3 linked regions of the Homo sapiens genome follow. The protein of the gene in region 1 purifies or fractionates together with the protein of each later gene. This does not show direct contact. Each region holds a gene or a part of one and is shown on either strand. Other genes may lie near its edges. The genes, in order: PHIP, UBXN7 and NUMA1.

Region 1 (7,313 bases):
CTTAGAAATTTATTATATACAAAATCATTTTAACAAAACATCTTAGGGAGAAATTAACACAAAATTACAAATCACTCCATGTGCTTAATTTGAAATGTTATGGCCTTATGTATTCATATCTAATGGTCTTCATGCTAAAATTGGGATTCTTAGTCAATAAAAATGCATGCCAATCTGACAAAATTTCTAGGAAAACTGCAATAACCTTCTTTCCATCATTCCTTTTTTCCCAGAAATTGCACATTTTTGAGAAAATATTTATGCAAAGTGTTCCACTGAAATGTATCTCTTACGAAAGTATCTGAATAGTGAAGTATTTATCACTCATCACAGTAACTTACGGTAAGAAATCAATAAAATTGTTTTATTAAATGTACACATAAAAAGGCATATAAGTTTTTGACCTTCAGTTGTTTTGGAATTAAATTACATTTCGGCACCCAAATATCTTTTAACTGACAGTTTTCACACTTTGCAAAACACACAGGGCACTGGAAACTCTAATGAACCAGCATTTACATAATGGTATCTGCCATATGACCACTTTGGTAAGCAGCTTGTTGAGATTATGTACTAAGTGCTTTATGTGATGCCAAAAAACTTTAAAAAGCAAATAATAAATCATGAGGCTCTACAAAATAGCTTAGAAAAACAAGTTTTCTATTTATTTAAAAATAAGTTTGTAGTTACTACATTGCAGGGACAGGTATTCTTACACATACATTCTAGTTTGTATAAAAGGATTCAAAGAATTATGCATCAAAACTAACATAGAAAGTGTCCACGTAACAGTAAAGAAAGGTCCAATCAGTATGTACAAAAAGAAAGGGCACTGCTATTCTGGTGTGAAACTGCTGTTTATAATATGATACTCCAGGTTCGGAAGGAAAAAAACAAACTTCAATAAAGCTAAATAATTAATTTGTTTTAAAACTCTGTGTTACTTATTACATACAACAGATCTGCTTGTGTTTAAACATTGTTTTCTGTACAAAATAAGCATAATCTTAATTTGAAAATGTGTCAGTTTCAACTTTCACCCTCTAGGTCAGTTACTTTTTAAAAATTGAGCTACATTCTACACATGTCTAAATATCCTGTGACAGGATTTAAGTTTTCTAAAAGATCTTCAGTAAGACCCCTGTCTTCTTGCAGTTTTAATATGGTCCAAAAATGTAACTTTGTATTGTCTCATGTTATAGTCTATCATTGTGACTAATCAACACACACAATCTTAAAGTAACCAGCATGTGTGCATCTGCCTTATATGCATGTACTATATTCCATCTTGAACCTATTTTCTTGGCTCCTTGAATTGTAGAAACTCAGCCATGCACTAAGTATTTGGTCTGTGCCATAAGGTTAATTTCCTGATAATTTTTATCTGCATTAAAAAAGTATTTCAACACAGAGCTATCAAAACTAAAAATAATATCTATTTATAGCTCATATTTTCTACTCACTGTTCTACTGCAGTGTGTACAAGGTTTATCTCTGGAGCGCCAAAAGTGGTACTTACAGTCTTCTGACTCAATTTGACCTTTTCTTGGGTACTATACATAGTTCGTAATGACTTTTCATTTGGAGCAAACTTTGCTCAGTATAATTAACAAAAATAGTTTCTTAGTAAATGTAATATTAATTTTAGTTCAGATCACTTGGAAATTAGGGGAACTAAGGGAAACTGCAAGGGTAGAAGCAAAGAAAAGTGTATTTTTCAAATTTTAATGGGAAAATAAATTCTTGCCTAAGTGTAACAAAACCACTGCTCAATCTGTTATGTTAGAAATACTTTTTAGGTTAATAGGAGTAATCAGATGATAAAACTACTTCCCCTATTATGACTTTTAAAATCATGTAACTCCTGCATATAAGCAGAACACTTACAGTCCTTTAATCACTCAAGTATCTTGGTCCTTTCAACCTACTCAAAAATAAATTTCAGGTAACAAAAACATTCAGAATATATCCGTTTTCATTAGATAGAAAACTGAAAAAGTTGCTTCTAGCTGACATTTGAGAGAGATATACAGTAGGTATATATGTATAAAATGGAATGTCAGAATTGAAGTAAACATTGTTAACTGGAGAAATTAATTTATATTACAAATCATATCTGAAAACATGTAAATGCTGCTAACATATAAGATAAAAATATTTGAATACATTTCTTAAAATGTCTGATTCCTCTACTGCACTGCAGATGAGGGACAGTTCTAGATGTTAACATACATGCTGCATAAAGATATTTTCTCTGATTACTGTATCTTATGTAATTCATTTCCAAGTGATAACTAAATTTAGTCAATCCCAAGTCTCAGATGTTACCTAATCCAGCTCACAAATATTCCACATACTTATTTACTTGGATTGGAGGAAGACAGTTTTATAATAATGCCAGCAGTCTTTAAATTTGTAGTGAAGTTGTGCAATAAAAACAATTGAAATAAGGCCAATCTTTAGTTTATAATACATGCAGAAAATAGTCCAATGCCACTATAGCAGGTCACAAAGGATAAAATTTTAAAAAGCTATGTATCTATTGCCCAGGGCTGTGAGTCTCTGATTAGACTAAATATTTAAACTAATGCTCCACTGAAACTTTTCATCTGGGACTTGAGAATGTTGGAGTTGAGGGAGAGAATACTAGGGTTGGGTACTTAGAAATACCTAAATTGGTTTACACTTTCCATGCATGTAAGAGTTATATTTCTGAACTTTCAGTAAATTGGAGATGTTTTTATTGCTTACCTAAGACAACTGCCAATATTTCTTTCTGGCCTATTAACAGTACATACATAGTGTTACTGCCTCAAAGAGGATTATTTTCCCAAGTGGTAAAGAAAACAAAAATATGGTGATGACTTAAATTTCTTAATTCAACTTCTGTAATGCATAGAAGCTAAATTATAAAAATATAAAATCTAAATATATTGGTATTACTAATACATGTTTAAGTGTTTCGGTTACAAAGAATCTGATCCAAGTTACTGTGCTTTACTAAGAAACCAGTGTCTAATAATGTCCAAATAAGGTCATAAATATACAGTGTCTGTAGAACAGGAATAATACATTTACATGTTATAGGAAAGATGGTAAATACTCATTTCTTTGCTTGAGTTGGAATTAACACATACACTGTACTAGAGGTATATTCCACTCTAAGACTGTGTACGCTCTTCCTTTTTCTGTACACAACTTAAAACTGTACATTTTTTTTACAAAAATTGATTTTATAGCCTATTATTTTTTTCTTAACACAATGCAGATAACATCAGGAAATTACATATTTCAAATAGATTGCCTTCAAAAGCAACTAATTAATGACAAATTTCAAACATACACTATTATTTTCAAGAATGGTGTAACTGAAAGACTCATTTTTCTATACAATCAAGCCATCCATTTCTGCATTATGAAGAGTTTAACTACTGAATTTTAATTTTATAGTTAAATATATTTGTTAGAAAAAAATAAATATACAAAAAACCTGAAAAATTTGAAATTATTTTTCAACTGCAAAATCTCAGCAATGCAGTCAAGATCTGGAAAATGGTTTACTTAATTTCACAGGAGAATTTCTGTACAAATTTAGTTACAAATGATCTAAAAAGCCCAAATGTATCACTTTTTCATTCTTCACGACAGTTAAATGACAGCTAATATTTATCCTTATCAGAAATAATTATGTAATGTATTTTGCCAAGGTTCAATTGCAGACTTTATTTTTCTACATCAGGGTCATGCTGATACATATTTTCCCCATCCTCACTTTTTAAAAATGTAGTATCTGAAAATTTTGATTACATTTTTGTACCATACCAGTCCTCAGAAAATACTACATTCTTTAAATTTTTAAAAAAATGGACAGTAATTTTTAAACAATAGAAATGGTAAGTATGTTGGTTTTTAAGGTATAAAATAACTAACTGTACCATAAACAAATAAATAACTGCTTTCCTTTTCCATAGCAGTACATATAGCAATACATTCTCCTAAGTCATATAGTTATCATTTACAATAGACAACTTAATTTTACTAATGATGCAAAAAATAATAGAATACAAGGCACAATCATTAAATGGAGTTTTTCTTTAGGGTGTATATTGACATACCAGCATGATAAGGATACCGTAAAAAGTGCAGAAAAAACACAATGTGCAATGAGACCACTGTATAAAACATGATTGCATAAAAAGTGATTTGGCCTATTTTAACCTTTAATAATTGAAAATAACCAATTTCCCCCTTAAAATTAAACTATAAAGTATGACATTTTAAAATTATTTTTATTCTACTGCTATCTAAAAAATCCTGAAAAAAGAATTTATACCTGGGTAATAGTATATAAGTATGTGTTTGTATATATATTTAATTATACCCATTTATCAATATATACACATACACACACAGACACGTTTCTTTGTAAGTCATTTTAGGCTATTAGATATGTCTAAAGTTTAGAAATGACATTAATCCAGATCAACAAGTAAACATCAAATCCCATACCTTTTTTCCTGTATTTTCCTTGAATCCTTTAACCACTTAAACATTTCCTCTAGAACATCTCTGTCAAAGGACCCACCAGTGCATTATTTTCTATTAGTACCAAAAAAAGATATATCTCAGCATAACTCTTTAATAACTTGCTCTTTAGAATATATAGCCTTTCCAATATTGAAAAGTGTATGCTGTCCTGACGTCAAAAACAGGCTTTCCACTGCACTGATTCTCAGTCTTTGGCACAATAAACAGAGATTGAGTGATATAAGAATCAAGGTCTGAAAAATTAGACAGTCAAATGTTTTCCAATGTGGATATGTTTCCCTTCATCAGTACATTTTCTCTTGTTTGGCAGAAATGGAATAAAGCAAAAGCCTCCTCTAGATACTTTGTAGATGAACATTCTATAATTAAAATTAAACTGTTTAGGGTATCAAATGGTGGAAATTTTATATTTATCTTTTAGAGGAAACATTTCTTAATTCACTGCTACTCTGTATAACATCTATCTTTTAGGGGCATGACTTGTATCAATAGAAATGTACCTCACTTGGTCAAAAATAATTCATTTTAACATGAAATGCTCTATCACTAGGAATATTATGCTCCTAAAGAGTGTAGCAGAATTGTCTTTTCTATAAATAAATCAGGAATTCATTATAGATCAATTTCTTTCGTTTCAAACAGTGAATGAAATGAATGTGAAAATGCATAACCTATCTAAGGGCAATAAATAGCAAACATTTAAAATATATATGTATATATTTATATATATATATATATATTCATTTAAAGAAGTGAAGTGTCTCGTAAGTTTGTTTTTTTTTTTTTTTTTTTTTTTGCAAATCAAATCATAACATTCCCTACTCCACCACAGCAGCAAGGAAGCAGAAGCCTTAGTTCTACTTATTCCTTAACTGTACCTGCTTTATAGATTTTGAAGTAAAATATTTTGGTACAAGTTACCAACCAATTAAATTAGCTTTTGCTTTTTCAGTCAACTTTCGGACTCGTCCTCTACTAGAAGTTCCAAAAGTTAAAGAGGTGTCTTCGAACAACAGCTGCCTTTGCTCCTCTTCAGAGTCATCCTCATTATAGAAAGCTGTCCTTCGACCTTGATTTCTAGTTCTCATGTGGGGTTCAGAGCCTTTGAGTTCTTCAAACTCTTCTTCCTCATCTATAGGATCATCTATCTTTTTTCGGTTACTTCTCCTTAACACTTTGACACTTGCAGGGACTAGGAGATCTGCATCTAATTTTTGTGTCTTCATCTTCCTTTTGGGCTTCCTACCTCCACGATTCTTTTTCTGTAACAAATCTTCCTTTACATTATTAGTTTCAGAAAGAAAATTGCATGTTGAAGAAGGAAGTACTTCATCTCTGATGGGATGCACATTATTTTGCTCTAAATCTTCTGGCTTTGCATACTGTAGCTTTTTGGGCTTTCTACCCCTTTTCTTGTGTATAATTTCACCACTATTGGTATTAACTTCTACTTTAGGTTTCCTTCCAGGTCCCCTCTTCACAAGTTTTGATGGCTGTCCTCCATGGCCATTTACTTGAATGGTTCCTGGTACAAGAGCGTTGTTCTTACAATCTCCTAAAAGGGAACAACAGTACACTTAATATATGGAGTTTCTTTTTTTGTTTGACTCTCAAACTTGTCAGTAAGGCCCCATTGGTATACTTATATGTAATGACATAATCCAAATTATTTTATTAAAATGAGAAAAAAGAACCTAGAAAACACTAATAGTTCAATGATCTTATTTATTTTCTAATTAAAAGAGACAGATTCTTAACGATCTCATGAGGGAGGTAAAGCTCATAGAAAATAAGTGACTTATCTAAGTTAACATTGTGATTGAGTATAAAGCTGGGATGACTAAAGGTTTCTTATTCCTAACTTAGAAATAAGTTACTCTTGGTCAAAAACTTTGTTCTTAGAACTGTTTAAAGAGGATTTAAAAACAACTAAATGGCAGTTTTCACAGGCTTTGAAAAGTCCTATCTCCTTGTGTAATAAATGGCAAATGACTATAATCCTAGGAAATACTGATTATATATATATATCAATCAAAATCACTATGTGTGCCACCATTATCATGATTAAGATCCCACTGTAACAAACTCCATGATAAAAGGCCATTATGCTTCATAAAACAGGAGAGAAAATCTGGCAATCAAATTCTAAACCTGAAGGATCTGGAGATGATGAATTACCTTTCTGTTGTAGAAAAAAATGCTATAACTTAGATAAAGGAAAAATATGCCACAGGAACTACCAGTAACTAACTCTCTTTCCCTCCAAATTTCTGACATGTTTTTATTTGATATGGTAGGTGATTTGCAATGCTCTATTTTTGAGGAAATTCATAGATGGAAACTGCTTTTAAAGAGAATACATCTTCATAACAGCATTTTTGGTCACAGGTTGGAACTGTACTTTGTAAATAAGAAAATCATGGTTGGTCGGGTGCAGTGGCTCACGATTATAATCCCAGCACTCTGGGAGGCCAAAGTGGGCGGATCACCTGAGGTCAGGAGTTCGAGACCAGCCTGGCCAACATGGCGAAACCCCGTCTCTACTAAAAGTACAAAAAGTAGCTGGGCGTGGTGGTGGGTGCCTGTAATCCCAGCTACTCAGGGGGCTGAGGCAGGAGAATCCTTTGAACCCAGGAGGCGGAGGTTGCAGTGAGCTGAGATCACGCCACTGCACTCCAGCCTGGGCGACAAGAGGGAGACTCCATCTCAAAAACAAAACAAAACAAAACAAAACAACATGGTTAAGAGACTTACCAAAGGTCAGA
Region 2 (7,313 bases), on another chromosome or scaffold:
AGCCTGGGTGACAGGGTGAGACTCCATCTCAAAAACAAAAAACAAAAAAGCCCAGGCGTGGAGGCTCACACCTGTAACCCCAGCACTGTGGGAGACCAAGGCAGGAGTTTGAGACCAACCTAGGCAGCACAGGGAGACCTCATCTATACAGAAAATTAAAAATTAGCTGGGCATGGTGGTGTGTGCCTGTAGTCCCAGCTACTCAGGAGGCTGAGGCAGGAGGATTATTGACCCCAGGAGCTTGAGGCTGCAGTGAGCTATGATAACACGGCTGCACTCCACCAGGGGCAAGAGAATGAGATCTTGTCTCAAAAGAAAAAAAAAAAAGACAATTAAAAATACCAAATGATGGAAAGAATGCAGAACAACTGGAACTCTCTTTTATTACTATTTTTTAATACAGATGTGGGGGTCTCTCTTTGTTGTCCAGGTTGGCGTCAAATTCCTGGCCTAGAGCAATCCTCCCGCATCAGCCTCTCAAAGCCACTATACTTTCCAAAGTGACTTTGGAAAGTCACTATACCAGAAAGTCACAAATTATTTGTCAGCTTCTTAGAAAGTTAATATAACTATTATTATATGATCCAATAAACACACTCCTAGGTATTTATCAAAAGATATTCACACACTTGTACACGACTGTTTTTGGCAGCTTTATTTATAATGTCCCCAAACTGGAAAGTGTCCTTCATTTGATAAATGCATAAACAAACCACAGTACAACCATACAATGGTATACTATTCCCCAATAAATAGGAAGGAACTACTAACCATGACAACATGAATGAATCTCAAACACAATAGTTTAAGAGCAAGAAGCCAGACTCAAAAGGTTACATATTGTGATTACACTTACATGACATTCTGGAAAACAGGAGACTAAAAACAGACTAGGCTATGGGCAGCCCAGCCCGCCAAGTCCTCGCCTGGCTGCATGCCAGCCTGATCAAGCCATAACCAGAGGACACAACAGCCCAACCTAGCGGGGCCAGTCACCACCTGGTCTGGGGATCATCTCTACCACAAGCGGCTGAGGCACAGCTGCCCTGGGGAGGGCGGAAGGCCAGGCATGTGGGCTAAACTGGCAGGTCACCGCAACATGTAAGTGTTTCCACGCCAGCAAACATTTACTGAGTATCTACCACGTATAAGAACATTGGCAACAAGCCCTCCAACAAGCCGGTCCCTGAGAGGAGCATGTGGACAGTGCCTGTGTGGGCCAATGGACCCTCTGTGGAGCTGGCCCCCTCATCCGCTCCAGATTGTGGCCTGGCCACTGTGCCTCTTTTCTTGGCTGTGATGGGGCTTGGGGTACTTGTTCCCCTCCTGCCTGACCATTAGGTGCCAGCTGGCTTCACTGTATCCTTGGGAAACTGTGGAGCTGGGTCATGGAAGAGTGGGGACATGGCAGAGGCCTGAAACTCAGCTCAGAGCCTCAGGGAGCATAAGGTGGGGCATAGCAGGACAATCCCAGTCTTGGAGACAAGTTGCTTATCTGCCTGGCCTCCAACCCCCATCTGACTTATCCACTTGACAAGGTGAGTGGATAAACCCAAAGTACCTTGGGGCACTTAAAGTCCTGCATGGATGTGAATTTTATCAACTCTAAGATTCTGAAGCACCACAGGGACAGAAGAGAGCCATCTTGAAGCTAATTGTGTTAGCTAAACAAAGGACTAATTAGAGACTAATTATTCCATTTACAAAATAATTTTTCACTTTTTTTTTTTTTTTTTTTGAGACAGAGTCACACTCTCTTGCCCAGGCTGGAGTGCAGTGGCAAGATCTTGGCTCTCTGCAACCTCTGACTCCCGGGTTCCAGCGATTCACCTGCCTCAGCCTCCCGAGTAGCTGGGATTACAGGTGCCCACCACCATGCCCGGCTCATTTTTTGTATTTTTAGTGGAGACAGGGTTTCACCATATTGGCCAGGCTGGTCTCAAACTCCTGATCTCATGTGATCCACCTGCCTCAACCTCCCAAAGTGCTGGGATTACAGGCATGAGCCACCACACGTGGCCACTCCTGATGCTTTAAGTGCCATGATACTCTCCTGGTTTTCCTCCTACATCTTTGGTTTTTCCTGAGTCTTCTCTGCACTTTCTTCTTTGCAGTCCCCCGGATGTTGGTGTTCCTTCAGCATTGTGTCCTGGAGTCTACTATTTCCCACACTACACTCCCTCCTGCAAGATGCCATCCTTTCTCTTTTCCTAATTTTTTTTTTTTTTTTTTTTTTTTTTTAAGAGACAAGGTCTCTCTCTGTCACCCAGGCTGGAGTATAGCAGCAGGAGCATAGTTCACTGCAGCCTCAAAGTTCTGGGTTCAAGCAATCTTCCCAAGTCAACCAGGATTACAGGTGCACACCACCAGGCCCAGTTAATTTTTTTTTACTTTTTGTAGAAACAGGCTCTTTGCTATGTTGCCCAAGCTGGTCTTGAATTTCTGGCCTCAAGCAATCCTTCCACCTTGGCATTCCAAAGTGCTGGGATTACCGGTGTGAGCCACTAGGCCTCGCCTCATCCATTTTTATAACCTTTTTTTTTTTTTTTTTTTGAGACAGAGTCTCGCTGTCGCCCAGGCTGGAGTGCAATGGCGTGATCTCAGCTCACTGCAACCTCCGCCTTCCAGGTTCAAGCAATTCTCCTGCCTCAGCCTCCTGAGTAGCTGGGATTACAGGCACACACCACCATGCCCGGCTAGTTTTGTATTTTTAGTAGAGACGGGGTTTCACCATGTTGGTCAGGCTGGTCTCAAACTCCTGACCTCAGGTGATCCACTCGCCTCGGCCTCCCAAAGTGCTGGGATTCCAGGTGTGAACCACCGCACCTAGCCCCATTTTTATAACTTTAACTGCCATGAATATGACAGATTTCTCACTCTTCTTTCTAGACCCAAATATTCATCTGCTTCAACAGCTCCATCTGGAAGTCCTATTAGCAGCACCTTAACTTATCCAAAACTGAGCTAACCATCTTCTCCCCACACCTTTCTGCTATTCCATACCTTCATAAATAGCACTGTTACATACCTAGGTGTCCAAAACAGAATCCTAAACTTCATTTTGACTCTGATTTCTTCCCATACCTTTTGGAGTCCACTTCTCCGCCACTAACTTTTTTCAGGACACCACTATCTTTCTTGGGTTAATATAACAGCCTTCTACTGATCTCTGTGCCTATCTCTTCTCCATTATAGCCAAGTAACTCTTTCTTTAAAAAAAAAAAAAAGGTCAAATCAGATGTAACTCCTTTTTTAATAAATAAAATTTTAATACATTTTGTAGAGATGGGGTCTCACTATGTTGCCTAGGCTGATCTCAAGCTCCAGGCCTCCCACCTCAGCCTCCCAAAGTGCGGGAATTATAGGTGTGAGCCACAGTGCCCAGTCTCACTCCTCTAATTAAAACCCTTGACTCCCCACTATTCTCAGAATAAAGACAAGATTTTTTTTAACATGGCTTATAAGGCCCAACCCAATCTCCCATTTATCTCTTGAGGTCCATTTATTGCACTAGCTGTGCTTTACTCATTTGGAATTATCAATTCCCTAAACCGATTGTCTCCCCTCTCTCATCTCTGTCTGTATACATGTCTGCCCAATTCCCCTCCAAGTCTCTGCATGTTTCTCCTGCAAGAAACATCTTCCAGATTTTAGATAAAAAAGTATTTATTCTGGGAAGGTTTTCTTGACCTCCCTCTTTTGTGCTCCAGTATTAGCTCCTTACCATTCTCTCACTGTATTCTAATACCTATTCGTGTGTCTCTATTCCTGTTAACCTTTAAGCTTTCTGAGGACAGACACCACGCCTTGCTCACAGTTGTATCCTTAAGATGTGAACCATGCCTGGCACGTAGCAGTCTACCAATAAATGAATCTACTAGTAAGATTCCATTCGCAACTCAAAATTACCTCCCTTAAATTTCTGAAACTTCAGCCAGGCATGGTGGCTCAAGCCTGTAATCCCAGCGCTTTGGGAGGCTGAGGTGGGTGGATCACCTGAGGTCAAGAGTTTGAGACCAGCCTCGCCAACAAGATGAAACCCCATCTCCATTAAAAATACAAAAAATTTAGCTGGGTGTCGTGACGCGCATCTGTGGTCCCAGCTGCTCAGGAGGCTGAGGCAGGAGAATCACTTGAACCGGGGAGGCGGAGGTTGCAATGAGCCAAGATCACAGCACTGCACTCCAGCCTGGGTGACAGGATAAGACTTCGTCTCAAAAAAAAAAAAAAAAAGAAATTCTGAAATGTATTCCCTATTGAAACTATTCTTAAAATTCCTGAAGTTTTCTCTTAACATCTATAATACTGTGACCACCTTTCCAGACACAGAGAACTTAATCATAGTTTAATATTAACCCAAGAGAAAGGAAATGTTCTGTACAAAAGCATATGAATGAGGCCAGGCGCGGTGGTTCACACCGGTAATCCCAGCACTTTGGGAGGTCGAAGCAGGAGGATCACCTGAGGTCGGGAGTTCGAGACCAGCCTGACCAAAATGGAGAAACCCCGTCTCTACTAAAAATACAAAATGAGCCGGGCGTGGTGGCGCATGCCTGTAATCCCAGCTACTCAGGAGGCTGAGACAGGAGAATCGCTTGAACCCGGGAGGTGGAGGCTGCAGTGAGCCAAGATCGTACCTTTGCACTCCAGCCTGGGCCACAGAGTGAGACTCTGTCTCAAAAAAAAAAAAAAGAACATGAATGGAAATTGGCCATAAAGTTAAATACCACAAACATGACAGCCCCTAATTTTTATAATAAATATGCACTCATCAACCATCTGAAAGATTAAGGTCTCTTCTACAACTGAGGTTCTATAATTTTCTCAAGTATGTTATTGCCGCTATGCACAAAGCTCTATGAATTTCCGTACCAGTAACCTCTTGTACTCTTCTTAGCCTCCACTTTCTATGCCCTCACATTTGTCCTTAGACTGCTAGCTTATTTTTCACCTGTTCTATAGTGTCTATGTATCCCTCACCTTCACTCCATGAATTATTCTGATTACACATGTGCACCAGTGTATATGTGTAGTGGATGTCAGCCCAAAGTTGGTGCTAATGGAATACTGCCATGGCTCAAAACATTTTTACTTTTATTTACTTTTTCTTTTTTTGAGACAGGGTCTCGCTCTGTGCTCGCTTCAGCAGCACATATACTAAAATTGGAGACAGAGTCTCGCTCTGTCGCCCAGGCTGGAGTGCAGTGGCTGGATCTCGGCTCACTGCAACCTCCGTCTCCTGGGTTCACGAGATTCTCCTGCCTCAGCCTCCTGGGTAGCTGGGACTACAGGCGTGCACCACCATGCTCAGCTAATTTTTGTATTTTTCGGAGAGACAGGGTTTCACCAGGTTGGCCAGACTGGTCTGAAGCTCCTGACCTCCGGTGATCCACCCGCCTTGGCCTCCCAAAGTGCCTGGGATTACAGGCGTGAGCCACCGCACCTGGCTTCAAAACATTTTTAAAAATTGCTCTTTCAGAATAGATCCAGCTGCATATTTTTCCTTCATGTTTTGAGAATTGATATGACTTCTGAGTTTTCAACAGTAATTCAAAGCCATGTATGATAAATATCAGAGGAGATCAAACAGTAGTATTGTAAAATGTGGAATGACTATAAAAGTAACAAGACTGGTTTTCTTATGTAGCTTTAAATGACACAGAAAGCATCAGTGGGGCCGGTTGCAGTGGCTCACGCCCATAATACCAGCACTTTGGGAGGCTGAGGAGGGCAGATCACTTGAGGTCAGTTTGAGACCAGCTTGCCCAACATGGTGAAACTCCATCTCTACTAAAAATACAAAAATCAGACGGGCATGGTGGCTTGAGCCTGTAATCCCAGCTACTGCGGAGGCTGAAGCAGGAGAACTGCTTGAACCCAGGAGGCGGAGACAGCAGTGAGCCGAAATCATGCCACTGCACTCCAGCCTGGGTGACGGAGTGAAATTCTGTCGAAAACAAAAACAAAAACAAAAACAAACAAAAAGCAAGCATCAATGGTAAACCATACTGTATACAGCTTCTCAGTGTGGTTACTTCAAAGGTCATCACTTCTCTTGGCTACCTGCTTATCAGTCTGACCATGCAAAAAAGGTTTGTAGCATAATGTTAAGTGAAAATTTCAGAACCGTGTATTTTAGCTGGGCATGGTGGCACATGCCTGTAGTCTTAACTGCTCTGGAGGCTGAGGCAGGAGAATCACTTGAGCCCAGGCGGTAAGGATGCAGCAAGCTATAATTGTGCCACTGTACTCCAGCCTGGGTGACAGAACAAGACCGTCTTTAAAAAAAAAAAAAGAAAAAGAAATCTCAGAAATTGTATATACTATGATCCACAATGTAAAAATAAGCATATAAACAAGAAGTGGAAGATAATATGTAAAATAAATATTGCTGTTGTGAGAAGGAGAATTAGTTCTTTTCCCTTTTATCAAAATTATTTCGGCCAGGTGCAGTGTCCCACGCCTGTAATCCCAGCACTTTGGGAGGCCAAGGTGGGTGGATTGCTTGAGCCCAGGAGTTCAAGACCAGCCTGCACAACAAAGTGAGACCCCATCTCCACAAAAAATAAAGAAAGTTACCCTAGAGGCTGCAGTGAGCCGTGATCACACCACTGCACTCTAGTCTGGGTGGCAGTGTGAGACCCAGTCCGTCTCAAAAAAAAAAAAAAAAGTTTTTATGATATTGTCTTTTTAATAATCTTTTTTAATCAGCCATTACTGAACCAGGCACAGTGATGTGCACCTGTAGCCCCAGTTACTGGGAGGGCTGAGGCAAGAGGATGGCTGAGCCCAGAAACTGGAGAACAGCTTGGGCAACAAAGAGAGGAGACCTCCATCTCTTAAAAAAAAAAAAAAAAAATCAAAAATCCGTCATTAGGCCAGGCGCGGTGGCTCACACGTGTAATCCCAGCACTTTGGGAGGCCGAGGCAGGCGGATCACGAGGTCAGGAGATCGAGACCATCCCAGATAACACGGTGAAACCCCGTCTCTACTAAAAATACAAAAAATTAGCCAGGCGTGGTGGCAGGCGCCTGTGGTCCCAGCTACTTGGGAGGCTGAGGCACGAGAATGGTGTGAACCTGGGAGGCAGAGCTTGCAGTGAGCCAACATCACGCCACTGCACTCCAGCCTGGGTGACAGAGCGAGACTCCGTCTCAAAAAAAAAAAAAACATCAGTCATTATTTCATACTCACTGAATCAGAGAGAGATCTGTTCTATTCAGTAAGAAATAAGACTTTTCTAAAATCTTTCAATTTTCCGTTCTATTTCTAAATGCCAAAAAAAGATAAGACTCACATTTATTTTTATTTT
Region 3 (7,313 bases), on another chromosome or scaffold:
GAGCGGAGCGGGTCTTACGACCCGAGTCCAGGAAGACGTCTCCCAGGGAGTCCAGGCTGCTCTCCAGGGGGGCCTGACTCCGAGCAGGGATGGGAGTGAAGTAGAGACTCTCCAGGGATTCTACCTTGGGGGGCAGGCGCTGGGAGATAGGTGAGGCTGGTTCTCCAGGGACGCTGGTGCCGTCTGGCTGGGTACGAGGCAGCTTGCTATGGAAAGGAAACCTGCTGAGGTACAGTCCTTCACGCTAGAAGGCATTTTGTCCAGCCCTTTTTGAAAGTGACCATTTCCCATCCTTACTACAAGCAGATGAGGTCAAGCAGCCCATCTCTCTGATTTTTCAGAGGTACCAAGGAAAGCACTTGACCTGGGCCTTCCTTTCAGTCCACTCCCCTGGCTTCTCCTAATAGCTCCTCATAGTGGCAATGCCCAGACCCAGATGTCCCATCCCCACCAGATGCCCATGGCTGCTTCACAGCAAACACGTCCCAATCTAAGCCCACTTCTCTGTTCTTCCTCCTGCATCTCCCATTTCAGTGAATAGGAACGCCCCCCACTCAGGCCCCCAAGCCATGAACGTGGGCATAATCCAATGTCGTCCTGCTTGGCGAGCCCAATCACCAAGCTTCCTGAACAGCTCCTAACCACACCCCACTCCATGCTCATGTCCTTTCCCTGGTCTGCTTCATCTCCTCTCACCTAGACTCATCATGGCACTGACAGAGGAAGATGAGTGGTGACAAGCCAAGAACTCAGGCCAGGCTGCCCAGGGTCAAACCCCAGCTCTACCACTGGGGAACCTTGGGCAAGTGACTGCCCCTCTATGCCCCAGATTCATCTGTTAAAGGAGACAGAATAAACCTACCTCAGAGGGTTGTTGGGGGACAAATCAGGTATAATTGTCATGAGTGCTTTATGTCTAGCACAAAATAAGTAAATGTAAGTGTTTAATAAAAACATTTTTCCAGTCTTAACTTCTATACTAGCTATTAGAATAATCTTTTTAAGATGCAAATTAACCATGTACTCTTCAGTTTCAAATTCTTCCAAGGTTCCTTTTTTTTTCTCCTAAACCTTTCAATTACAGCCACCAAGGTTTCCTCAATGCCTTTAGGATCAAGTCTTAATAGTCGGTCTCCAATGGGCCTTCCTGGCCTCACATCTCAGCTTAGTCAGGCTCTTTCACAGCCTCTGTTCACACTGCTCTTCTCGTCAACCTGGCACACACACCTATGGATGCTTTCAAGACTCAGCAGGAGCGATAGCTTCCACGAAGCCTTTCTTGACCACTTGCTTTTTATTCCAACTGTGCCCTAAATAGATATCTGGTATAATACCCGTTTTTCGTTATTCTTCTCTAAGAATAAATTTAGATCACATCTTATTTATCTCACTAGGATACAGCCTGATAAACAGCAGGCACTCCATAAACAGACATAGGGAGGAAGGCTGCCTCCTGACCTGGTGATACTGAGTGGGGTCCCCTCCTCGCAGCTCAGATCCAGGCTGTCAATACTCAAGTCCAGCTGGGGCTTAGCCTGGGGCTCACGGCTCTTTAAAGCATCAGTTGCCACCTGGAATTTGCCCAGGTCTCGAAGCTGCTGGTCTGCATGGGCAACCTGAGAAGGAGAGGGCCAGGGGGAGAGTGAAGAAAAGCCTAAGGCAGCAGTGGCCTAGGAGGAGAGGGCACAGGGGTCCAGTGGAATAGGAGTGAGGTGAGTCTGCCAGCCAAATTCTTACCTGTGCCTCCAGGCTGCGCACCTGGGCAGTAAGGTGGCGGCAGGTCTGTTCAGCCTCCTTGGTCTTCAGCCCAGCCTGCTGTAGCTCATGGCCCAGCCGTTCAGCTTCAGCTCGCAGCTCTTTGTTTTCCTTCTGCAGCTGCTCCAGGCTCCGCAGCTGCTCCTGCAGCTCTTGGTTCTGCTGCTTCTTGGCATCATAATGTGTTTTGGCTTTCTCCATCTGTGGGCAGAGAGGGTGGGTGGGTGGGGTAGAGGTTGAAGGGCAGGAGGAAGGTGGCATGGGCTGGGGCTGGGCTCCTTACCTGCAGCTTATAGTGCTCAGCTGCCTGCTCCTTCTGGCTCAACTGGGCTTGCAGTTCATTCAGCTGGGCCTGGAGGCGCTGGGCCTCCTGCTGGCTCTCGCCTCCCTGAGCCTGGACAGCCTGAGAAGAAAGGCCACTCAGGAAAGCTGGTCTGGCCGCTCTACCCAAGTCCGCTTATCTGCACCAGCCACTGGGGCTCCACAGGTGCTTCAGACTCCTGCACTTTCTTAGGAAGCGGAAGAAAACCACACCACCCCAAATACTCTCTGCCCGACTACAGTCTACTAAACCTGAAGCCCACATGCCCTTCAGTCCACATCCGTAGTGGCCTTTCCCTGACCAGCTCCTGCCCTATCTTTGCCTTCTTTGAGACCAGACACAAAGTGTCACACCCTCTTTGCATGCACAATCTCCCGTAGGAGGAAGGGAACCAATCCTCAGGGAACACCCAGGTGCAGAGCCTTACTCTAAGGCACTTGGCATGTGAGCTCTCTTAGGACAGGGGAACTTGTTTCTCCTCAAAGCCACTCTGAGAAGTCACTTCACCCTCTTTTCAGAGGAGGAAACTGAGTTCAGAGATTTAAGCAAATTGACCAGAGTAACAGTGACTAAATGGCAGAGTAAGATTTGGTCCACCTAACTCCAAAAGCCCATGGGGGCTTATTTATGATGCCCACACTGCCTCCTGTCCAGACCATAACTCCTTAAGAGCAGGGCCTGATTCTCTGTCCATCTGCAAGGCCAACAAGTGCTTTGCTGTAGATAGAAGCATCCCCCCTTTGCCTCTCCTAACATAGGACAGGCCCCACAAGGAGTAGAATAAACATTTGTTTATTGCAATCAAGACATGCTGTGGCACCATGGTATGAAGGTGAGCAGGAGAAATGAAGCTCTGAGCTCCCAACAACTCCTAGGAGCCACCAGGGCTTTAGTGAGTCCCAATGCCACTGGTGCCCAATTCCTTTGCCCCTGACTGAAGGCTGTGAAGCCTAGAACTGCAAAAAGCAAGTATTAAACCAAAGAAGGTGACACAGTTGAAAGCATTAAGAATGTTATTAAACTGCACTGTAATATTCAACACTGGTGACACTCTCGTTCTTTCCCTGCCCAGACTATCTAGACTTACATTGTCCAAAAGAACTTTATGCAATGGTGGAATGTTCTGTATCTGCGCTGTCCAATACAGCAGCCACTAACCACATGTAGCTACTGAACAGGGGCACAGTGTAGCTAGTGTGATTGAAGAACTGGATTTACTTTAATAAATTTCAATAACCACACGTGACTAGTAGCTGCTGAAGTGGACAGTGACAGTTGAGAGATGGGAACCACCCTGGTTGTCTCTCGAGAGCTCCCAGAAGACACATGCAGGGGCTTCTAAGCCACAGGCTTCCTAGGAGGGCTACCTGGAATGCAGGGTGCCCCTCTTCTGCCCCGACACCCCCCACGGCCCCAGAGCTTAGAGAATAGCTTCCCTCCCTTGTCCAGAGGCCAGACCCATTCCCCCAGCTGCCCCACCTTCAGCTTCTGCTGCTGCACCTTGCTGGCTTGGTCAGAGTCAGCCAGTTTCTTACTCAGTTCTTCCACCTGGGGAGGGAAGAGGAGGACAGAAGACTCAGGAGGACTTCCCCTGGATGTTCATCCTGGATGTCCACCCATCATGGGGTTTCCCAGACCAGGATCCCCAGTGTTCCTAGAATAAACTCAGGCCCTTTCTCTGGCCTCCAATTACGGAACAGCCTGCTGCCCAGGCTGCTTGGCAGGGCCTGAATGAGGCAACCTAACACATAGATGTTGCCAGGGCCAACTGTTCTTGCGTCTACCCTGAGCCTGCAGAGACAGAGGCCTGCCCAACCCCCGTCACCTCCAAAATCAGGAGAATTGACTCTGGGGAGCCGACACCTCACCACCACCTTGCTGCCGCCACACTCTGCAGCCGCAACCTTCCCAGGACCTAGTCTGTAATTCTAGTAGACATACTCAATGAATTCCCATGCCTCCCTCCCAGAAACTGCCAAAGCCCAAGCCCACAGATGCTCAGACCTCTTCCCAACATCCACAGGCCGTTAGGGCTGGTGCTAGCAGCATGGCTGCTGTGGTTAGCATTGGGGAACAGATTGCTGGAAGACAAGAGCAGGGGCAGCACATGTACTCCAAAGCCCACCCCACTCCTACAAAGAGGAAGAGCACAGGGAGTAGGGGAAAAGAGAGAACATAACAGCCCCATGCACCCTTGGCTGCTCCAAGCATTCTGGGAGTTCAAGCATGACCAGGCAGCACAGGGGAGAGGCAAGGGCTCCATTGCTAACTGTTTGCTATTCACTTTGATTGTCCCCCACTATCACAGGCTCCTTAGAGGAGGGCCCAATTTTTCAGCAGCCCTGGGGTGGCTGGGTAGGAGAGTGATGGAGAAAGGGTGCTCTATAGCCTCGATGTCTCAGAAACACCAGCTCTATAGCCTCGATGTCTCAGGCAACACAGAGATGATTCCCATGAGAAAGAGGCAGCCAGACCATGTGACCCCCACTCCCCCGCCCCCATCTGGTATAGACCCCTCCTGCTCCTTCACCCTCGGTCTTCCTGCTACAGACATCTCTATGCTGTGCTCGGGGTTAGAGCCCCAGAAAGTGATGGGCAAGTGTCCTAAGCCCACAATCCTCCCTAACCTGTGGGGGCTGCCTCGCATATCACCTTCAAGGCTTCCATAAAGCTGTACTCTGGGAAAAAGGGACACCATGTTAAACAAGGCCGACACGGTAATTCTGCTGTTCCTCTTAGTCGGGTATCCTTAACTAGACACAGTACTTGGGAAGTTCTCGAATCCCAAGGATTGTGTCTGTCATTGGTTCAGGGTGGGAAAGATGAAGCCAGTGCTACCCCTTGTCCCTGATAGGCAAATGAGAGAAGGTGCAGAAGGGTGGAGAGGCCGACCTGGGATGGGTGGGATGAGGCCTGAGAGAGCCCAGCACACCACACTCCTGGGCAGCCTGGGCCTGGATTCCATGGCTTGACCCTGCCCCCTTCACAAACAGTTCACAACAGGAGCTGGCGGAGGCAAGCTGCAGCCGGGCTCATGCACCAAGACTGGTCACCGTTTAAGCAGCCAGCATTTAGCGAGGACCTCAGGCATTACCTGCTTAGTTTGCTCTCTCTGAAATACCTCTAGCTGCTCCACCTGTACATGGGGGAGGAGCAACAGAGACAGAGTGAGATGAGGCCAAAGAAGCACCAGCCCTGCTGCCAGGCTGACCTCACTGAGGCTCTGATACTTTCCCCTAAGGAGCTAGATTGACAGTAAGTTTAAAAATGCCAGTTAGGCTGATTCTAATCCCCAGTGGCTCCTGAGGCATCCAGTGCAGGTGTGCCTCTGAACAGGCTGGTGGTCATCACAACTTGACTCTCTAGTGACAGAGCCTTCAGGGGAGGGGAGGCCACTGACATTTTCTTTAGGATGACAGGGGCAACAGACTTGAACTCCACCAGCCACCTCTCCTTTTCTGCCACCCAGTGAATGAGGAAAGGCAAGACACTCCAGTGTAGGAGCTAGAGGCCCTGGACACAGAGGATCGATGTCCCCGCGCTCTCAGCTCCTGATCTTTGGGAGGGTGGTTGGGCTGAGTACCTTACCTGGGCAGTGAGTTTCTGCCTCTCTTCCTGGAACCGCTGCCTCTCCTCCAGGACCTTGACCTTGGCACCCTCATACTTGGCAGTCATCACCTCCAGCTCCCGGGCAGTGCTCTGTGCTTCTCGCTGCACCTCAGCCAGACGGGTCTCAGCATCAGCACGTACGGCTGCCAACTCTTGGACATACTTCTCCCGGGCCTGGTCCAACTCCACTTCCAGAAACTGCCGGCCAAGGTTGGCCCGCTCACCCAGCCCCCGGTTCTCCTCTGCCAGCAGGCCATGCGCCTTCTTCAGCATGCTCAGCTGCTCTGCATAGCTGGCCTTCTCTGCCCGCAGCTGCTGAGCTGTTCGCTCCTGCTCTGCCACCTTCTGCCGCAGAGGAATCAGCTCCCCAAGCTCCCGCTGGGCCCGCAGCAGCTCTGCCCGCAGTCCCCCAGCGGCCTGCTTGCTCTGCTCCAGCTCCTCACGGTGGCGTTTCTCGGCAGCGGCCTGCTCGGCCTGCAGCTGCTGGCAGAGGTGCTTAGCTGGCAGCAGCTCACTCACCAGGGCCTGTGTGCTGGTGTGCTCGAGCTGCAGGGTGGAGAGGGCCTGCTCTTTCTGGAAGAACTTCTCCTGCCACGCCTTCAATTCTTGGCCCAGCTCCTCCGCACGCTCAGCCTGTGAGGTCAGCTCCTGCCGCAGGTTCTCTGAAGCCACCCGCTGTTTCTCAGCCTCCTCCCGGAGGCTCTGCACCTCCTCCCGCAGAGCAGAGCTGCGTTCTGCAGCTCTGGCACTGTTGCTGGCTGTCTCTGCCTGCAGCAGGCGCAGCCTCTCCTCCAGCTTCTGGCTCTTCTCTGACTCGGCCATCACCAGCCGCTTCAACTCCTTGCTCTCCCCCTCCTTCTCCAGGACCTGGCGATTCAGGATGGACACCTCCTCCTCCAAGCTGCTGATGAGGCTATTTTTCCTCTCAGCCTCTTGCCGGCCCCGGGCCACCTGGGCCTTCCACTCATCTTCAGCCTTGCTGTGGTCTTGTACCTTGGTGCGGAAGGCAGCCAACTCCCGTTGGGCCGAGGCTAAGGCACTCTGACTGTGCCCTAGCTCCTGGGCCTTCTCCTCTAACTGGCCCTGCAGAGTCTCCAGAGCACTGTCCCGCTCAGCCCGGGAGGCCCGCTCAGCCTCGAGGCTGCGTTCCAGGCTGTCAGCCTGCTCCTGCTGCTTCTGGCATTGCTGTTCCAGCTTGCTCACCTCTGCCCGCAGTGCCTCCAGCTTGGGGCCTGTTGGCTCTGTCCTGCCAGCAGCCTCAGATTGGGCTCCTGAGCCAGATGCGTGCTCCTTTTCTTTCTTAGCCAGCTGTTCCTTCAGTTGCTTCACGGTTTGCCGAAGTTCCTCCAGCTCTTTTATCTGGGCTGCCTCCAGACCACGAAGCTTGGCCAACTCCTGGTCCTTGCCTTCCTTTTCCGTCAGGGCATGAGCCAGTGCCTCTTGCAGGGTAGCGAACTCCACACGCTGCTCGTTGAGGGCGTTCTGCAGCCGCATCTCAAGCTCTGCTCTGGCCGCCTTCTCCAGGGCAAGGTCAGCCTGGGCACGGCCCCGCTCCTGGGTCAGCCGCGCCACCTCCCTTTCCTGCTGCCCACGCTCCTCCTGCTGCTGCCCCTGGCTCTCCATCAGC

The links.
Region 2: the proteins of PHIP (region 1) and UBXN7 purify together in Homo sapiens (affinity purification with mass spectrometry; 2 studies listed by BioGRID). This does not show direct contact.
Region 3: the proteins of PHIP (region 1) and NUMA1 purify together in Homo sapiens (affinity purification with mass spectrometry; 2 studies listed by BioGRID and IntAct, with this or other methods). This does not show direct contact.

Annotation. Positions count from the first base shown.
Region 1 is NC_000006.12:78,935,228-78,942,540, forward strand, and holds part of PHIP (PH-interacting protein), read right to left. Parts: intron 6,104-7,313; coding exon 5,466-6,103; 3' UTR 306-5,465; coding exon of another isoform or gene 234-305; 3' UTR 1-233.
Region 2 is NC_000003.12:196,422,170-196,429,482, forward strand, and holds part of UBXN7 (UBX domain-containing protein 7), read right to left. Parts: intron 1-7,313. UniProt on the Homo sapiens protein: Ubiquitin-binding adapter that links a subset of NEDD8-associated cullin ring ligases (CRLs) to the segregase VCP/p97, to regulate turnover of their ubiquitination substrates.
Region 3 is NC_000011.10:72,007,230-72,014,542, forward strand, and holds part of NUMA1 (nuclear mitotic apparatus protein 1), read right to left. Parts: coding exon 5,666-7,313; intron 5,214-5,665; coding exon 5,172-5,213; intron 3,626-5,171; coding exon 3,557-3,625; intron 2,159-3,556; coding exon 2,039-2,158; intron 1,957-2,038; coding exon 1,738-1,956; intron 1,617-1,737; coding exon 1,459-1,616; intron 972-1,458; exon of another isoform or gene 917-971; coding exon of another isoform or gene 863-916; exon of another isoform or gene 207-862; coding exon 1-206. UniProt on the Homo sapiens protein: Microtubule (MT)-binding protein that plays a role in the formation and maintenance of the spindle poles and the alignement and the segregation of chromosomes during mitotic cell division.